Regions from separate parts of the Homo sapiens genome. Here region 2 is linked to region 1. Evidence: fine-mapped expression QTL. A gene starts in region 1. The other region holds a variant in brackets. All regions are shown on one strand. Distances are from middle to middle. Region 1 holds the start of TRPV1 (transient receptor potential cation channel subfamily V member 1). Region 2 overlaps SHPK (sedoheptulokinase).

Evidence for each region. PIP is the estimated chance that this variant, and not a neighbour inherited with it, causes the effect.
Region 2: its variant is fine-mapped to the expression of TRPV1 in whole blood (TOPMed, PIP 0.91).

The regions. Positions count from the first base shown.
Region 1 is chr17:3,608,079-3,610,982 of GRCh38, reverse strand. It overlaps TRPV1 (transient receptor potential cation channel subfamily V member 1), which reads left to right and starts at 1,572. Exons shown (of 17, transcript NM_080704.4): 1 at 1,572-1,674; 2 at 2,418-2,556. It overlaps SHPK (sedoheptulokinase), which reads left to right. Exons shown (of 7, transcript NM_013276.4): 7 at 11-2,743. The coding sequence ends at 423. RefSeq lists an enhancer at 1,181-1,682.
Region 2 is chr17:3,629,862-3,632,765 of GRCh38, reverse strand. It overlaps SHPK (sedoheptulokinase), which reads left to right. Exons shown (of 7, transcript NM_013276.4): 2 at 2,420-2,561. Among named protein-coding and RNA genes, the nearest start is that of SHPK, 4.9 kb to the left of the region's middle. The variant G/A (reference allele first, on the strand shown) is at 1,042.

The DNA.
Region 1 (2,904 bases):
TCTCTGGCAGGCCTGGAGGTTGAAGAATCCACTGTGTATTCACGCATGATTCAGGCAGCTGTGCAGCAGAGAGATACCCACCTGACCATCACCCCGACAGTGCTGGGGGAGAGGCACCTGCCGGACCAGCTGGCCTCAGTGACCAGAATCTCCTCCTCCGACCTCTCCCTGGGGCACGTGACCCGGGCTCTGTGCCGAGGCATTGTTCAGAACCTGCACTCCATGCTTCCGATTCAGCAGCTCCAGGAGTGGGGCGTGGAGAGGGTGATGGGCAGTGGGAGTGCGCTGTCCAGGAATGACGTGCTGAAGCAGGAGGTGCAGAGGGCTTTCCCTTTGCCCATGTCCTTTGGGCAGGATGTGGATGCAGCTGTCGGGGCAGCTCTGGTCATGCTCCGGAGACACCTCAACCAGAAGGAATCTTAGACAGCAAACTCTTTCGCCAAACGACTGCTGTGAATTTTACCTGATTAACATTCCTGACACCATCTGTGGGTCATCCTTTCCCTGGACCGTTCAGTGGACAGCTTTCAAGCAGTGCTTGTTGTGAGGTCCCATCTCGGCCAAGAACTTACCTTCAGAACATACTCTAATAATGCAGCCAGGAGCCGTCAGCCAGATCCCAAATGAGTGCCTTCCGAAATTGACCCACCTGGGAGCTATTTACAAATGTCCATGTGGGAGAGAGAGAGCATGAGAGCACAGTAGCCCAGCCTGCTGGTCAGCAGGCTCATCTGTGGTTCACCTGTAGACAGAGAGCAGATCAATGTGTACTTCAGACACCAGAAAGTCTGGTGGCTTTGGTCCCAAGTGGGAAAAGAGAACTGCCCCATGCCCAGCTTGTGATTATCGTTTTTGGAGACCTGAAGCCCACACTCGGGTCGTATGGACTTCTGGAAAAGTTCTTGTCTCCTGGACTGAACCATGTGACCGGAGGCCCCTTTCCTAGTCTCATCCTCCCCTGGCTGCAGATGCTTAGCTGGGCCAGGGATTGACCCAAGCGCGATGCAGCAGGCAGGCTCAGAAGACGATGCGGGGCTGTGTGCCGGCCTTCTTGCTGCATGTACTCAGCCTCAGGAGAGCTTGCTGCACCCAGGCCGCCCAGGTCTTCACAGCACAACTGCCTGGAAGGCAGGTTGCGAGAAGGAGAGGCGGATGGCATGAGCAGCAAGGGGGACCGATGCTGTGCAGCTCACACCACTCCAGAACCTGACAAGGCACCAGCAGGACCCCTTGCCAGGAGCATGTCTGTGCAGCAGTGTTTTTGCCCCTGCACATTCCAGAAGCCCTCATGGGAAGGGATGCAGCCAGGCAGACTCCTGCCAGATGGGGCAGGTAGTTTATTCAAAGAGAACTCTGTATCCCATAGGCCCAGGCTCTCCTTTCGCTTGGCGTGGGCTTTGCTGGCCCAGTGTGTGCTCCTGGCTCAGCAGAAACATCCATTTGAGTTGGCATCCCTGTAGGGATCCCAGAGCGTTGTAAGCCTTCTTGTGATTGGTAGGGATGGCTGTGGGGTGGCTTCCAGGAGGGGGCCACCATTGCCGCATCTACTTCTAGACTCCCAAAGGAGCCCAGGCTCAGGCAGGCCTGGCCCAGAGTCACGCTGGCAACCACGAGTTTGGGAAGCAGTCGTATTCTCTCTCTCTCTCTCTCTCTCTCTCTCAGTATCCATGACAGGTATGAAACATATTGTCTCTTTATAAATGTCATTTTACAAATTATGTGATTATCTGGAAGCTCTAAGATGAGAGCAAATGCCTGATCACTCTGGCCAAATGTCAGATACTAAAGCCCATTCTTGGCCGGGCATGTTGGCTCCCGCCTGTAATCCCAGCACTTTGGGAAGCCCAAGTGGGTGAATCACCTGAGGTCAGGAGTTCAAGACCAGCCTGACCAACATGGGGATACCCCGTCTCTACTAAAAATACAAGCCGGGCGTGGTGGCGCATGCCTGTAATCCCAGCTACTCAGGAGGCTGAGGCAGGAAAATCACTTGAACTCGGGAGGCAGAGGTTGCAGTGAGCTGAGATCGCGCCATTGCACTCCAGCCTGGGTGACAGAGCAAGACTCTGTCTCATAAATAAATACAAAGCCCATTCTTCCAGAGTCTTGTGCCTTAAATAAAACACACCTCTCTGCTGTGGGAAGACTGTGCAATGGCACAGCCGCAGAGCTTGGTTTGGGAGGTTGAAGTGCTCTGGGGAGAATTCGTAGATCATCCTCAGAAAAGCCTTGCCCTGGTGTTCTACCAGAAAAACGTCTCCCAATCACCCAGGAAAGCTGTCCACAGTAGTCCCCCCTTATCCACGGTGTCACTTTCCATGGGTTCAGTTATCTGCGGTCAACCACGGTCTGACAATATTAAATGGAAAATTCTTCAAACAGTTCCCAAGTTTTCCCTTGTGCATTGTTCTGAGCAGTGTGATGGAGAGTCTCTGCCGTGCCATCTGGGATGCAAACCGTCCCTGTGTTCCCCACGTCCAGGCCGTAGATGCTCCCCGCCGGTCAGTCACTTAGTCGTCAGATCGCCCGTCCTGGTATCACAGTGCTTCTGTTCAGGTCAGTCTTTTTTTACTTCATTAGGGCCCCAAAGCACCAGAGTAGTGATGCTGGTAGTGATGCTGGCTGTTCGGATATGCCAAAGAGAAACCGTAAGGTGCTTCCTTTAAGTGAAAAGATGGGAAGAAAACAGTCATATGCTGAATCTTCTATCTGTGAAATTCTAAAGAAAAAGAAATTCGTGCTAGTTTTTTTTGCCTTTTTTTTTTTTTTTTTGAGACATAGTCTCACTGTGTCACCCAGGCTGGAGTACAGTGGTGCAATCTTGGCTCACTGCAACCTCTGCCTCCCGGGTTCAAGCGATTCTCTTGCCTCACCCTTCTGAGTAGCTGAGATTACAGGCTCCTG
Region 2 (2,904 bases), 22 kb before region 1:
AAAAAGAGGCCTGAGGAGTAGGATTTAATGAGCTTCTAAGTACTGTGTGCAAGTCTAAAGCGCGAGGATTCGACGTGGATGTAGACCAACTGATATTCTGAGCCAAGGAGTGGGGGCAATGTCTATTCCTGTTACACTGGGGGTCTGTCCAAGAGCTACTCCCCAATCACACCCGCCCCTAAAACTGTTTCTAACTGCTGAACACTGCCTCCTTGTCTTTACCACATCCAGCCTGCTTACTTCTTCCCGTGTCTCCCCCCACACAACTCACGCACCCACTCACCCTGGGACCATTTGAAACAGCAGCTCTGTCCTGGGATGACACACCACCCCATGGCCATGTGGAGTCTTACTGTGTTGCTGAGGCTGGTCTCAGGCTGGTCTCAAAGTTCTGGGATCAAGTGATCTCCTGCTTCAACCTTCCCAGTGGCTGCGATTATAGGCGTGAGCCGCTGCGCCCAGCTGGGAGGACTCTTTAAACTAGCTCTGTCCAGTAGAAATATGACCTGCAGGCCAGGCGCGGTGGCTCACGCCTGTAATGCCAGCACTTTGGGAGGCCGAGGCGGGCGAATCACGAGGTCAAGAGATCGAGACCATCCTGGCCAACATGGTGAAACCCCGTCTCTACTAAAAATACAAAAATTAGCCGGGTGTGGTGGCGCGCACCTATAGTCCCAGGTACTTGGGAGGCTGAGGCAGGAGACTCGCATGAACCTGGGAGGCAGACGATGCAGTGAGCTGAGATCACACCACTGCACTCCAACCTGGTGACAGTGAGATTCCGTCTCAAAAAAAAAGAAATGTAACCTACAAATGGAGCCAGGCGTGGCCTTTTCAATTTTCTAGCAGCCCTATTAAAATAAACAAGTGAAATTAATTTTAATTGCATATTTTATTTAACCCAGTGTATCCAGCACATTATCAGTTTGATGTGTGATAATCAAGGCTGGGTGCGGTGGCTCACACCTGTAATCCCAGCACTTTGGGAGGCCGAGGTGGGTGAATCCCTGAGGCCAGGAGTTTGAGACCAGCCTGGCCAAC[G/A]TGGCGAAACCCCGTCTCTACTAAAAATACAAAAATTAGCCCGGCGTGGTGGTGTGAGCCTGTAATCCCAGCTACTCCGGAGGCTAAGGCAGGAGAATCACTTGAACCTGGGAGGCAGAGGTTGCAGTGAGCCAAGATTATGCCACTGCACTCTAGCCTGAGCAATAGAGAGAGACTCTATCGCTAAAAAAAAAAAAAAAAAAAAAAAAAAAGCATTAAATTAGATAGTGTATATTTTTTGTCATACTAAATTGTAGTCCGGTGCATGTTTTACATTTACATGTCAATTCAGACTAGCCACAAGTGGCTAACGATTTCAGTATTGGACAGTGAGGGTCTAAACAAATGTCTATTCCCAGAACCCTTCTTCCTGCCCCCCACCCCCATGTCCCCACCCTGCTCTTCTTTCCTCCCTCTGGTGATCCTGCATAGCCACCTGGCTCCTCTGTGCCTCTTGTCTTCCACTTCCTCTTGGCTGTGGCCTCTCTTGCATGTAGAATCCTTGTTGAGCTCTGGGGCTGCTTCCTAGGAAAAGGCTGTGCTTCCCCTGTACTCCCTGCCCCATCCTACCCCTCCTCTCCTCCCTTCTTTCTCTTCTTTGTTCCTGCTTGTTAGGAGCCAAGAGCTGCCCCTGACCAAGGCCGCAGGCTGACAGGGGCAAGCGAGAGGTTTTCCGAGGAGGGGAAGACAGCACTCCCGGGAGGGAAGCAAGACGTCTGAGAACTCAGCCTTCAGATGCCTTTCTAAGACCTTAGCTTTGCTAGTTCCTCAAAGAGCTGACATTTATTGAGAGCTGAGCCACAATTCTCTTCCCCTTCTTCTCTTCTGAACTTTCTGTGGATTCCTCTAGTTGGTTTTTTTGAGATGGAGTCTCACTTTGTCACCCAGGCTGGAGTGCCGTGGCGTGATCTCGGCTCACCGCAACCTCCGCCTCCCAGATTCAACCGATTCTCCTGCCTCAGCCTCCTGAGTAGCTGGGATTACAGGTGCATGCCACCATACCCGGCTAATTTTTTGTATTTTTAGTAGAGACGGGGTTTCATCATGTTGTTTGGCTAGGCTGGTCTCGAACTCCTGACCTCAGGTGATCCACCCACCTTGGCCTCCCAAAGTGCTGGGATTATAGGCTTGAGCCACCAGTGCCTGGCCTTATTTCTTCTATTTATAGCACAGAGAATGCTGTTCTCAGCTGAGTCTGACCCCAGTGGAGGGCAGGCCCAGGCAGTTTGCTGCAACTCACCTGCAGCAGTGCCTCAACTGTGAAGTTAGGGAGTGGATGCTGCCCACTGCATTCCTCCTCCAGGACATCCCGGGAGGCCTGCGCCCCTCCCCCTGCCTGTGTGTCTGCCCCTGCCCATGTGTTCTCTTTTGCTTCCAGGGGCGGGAGCAGGATGTGAGTAGAATCCTCCAAGCCCTACACGAGTGCCTTGCTGCCCTTCCCCGACCCCAGCTCCGGAGCGTCGTGGGCATCGGGGTGTCGGGCCAGATGCATGGAGTCGTGTTTTGGAAAACAGGCCAAGGTATGCTGGGCTCGGGGATGCTCTCAGGCTGGTAGCAGTCACTTCCAGAACTAGAGCAGTGCTGTGCGGGGCTTTCTGTGAAGGGTCGGGTTATCCTGCAGTGGGAATAGGGTCTTGTTTCTTGGAGTGGACGAATACGTGCTGCCTCCTGCGTGGGTGAGCATTCTGTACCAATGTTAGGTGAACAAAGGAACTGCCCACTCCCACATCATCAGCACGTTATCCACGAACAGGCAGAGGGAAGAGAGTGTTTTCTCGGATTCTCCTGAAGGATTCAGCAGAGTGCATTTTCCATAGCTTTCTCTTTACCATGTCAGTATCTCAGAACATTAGTGCAGACAAC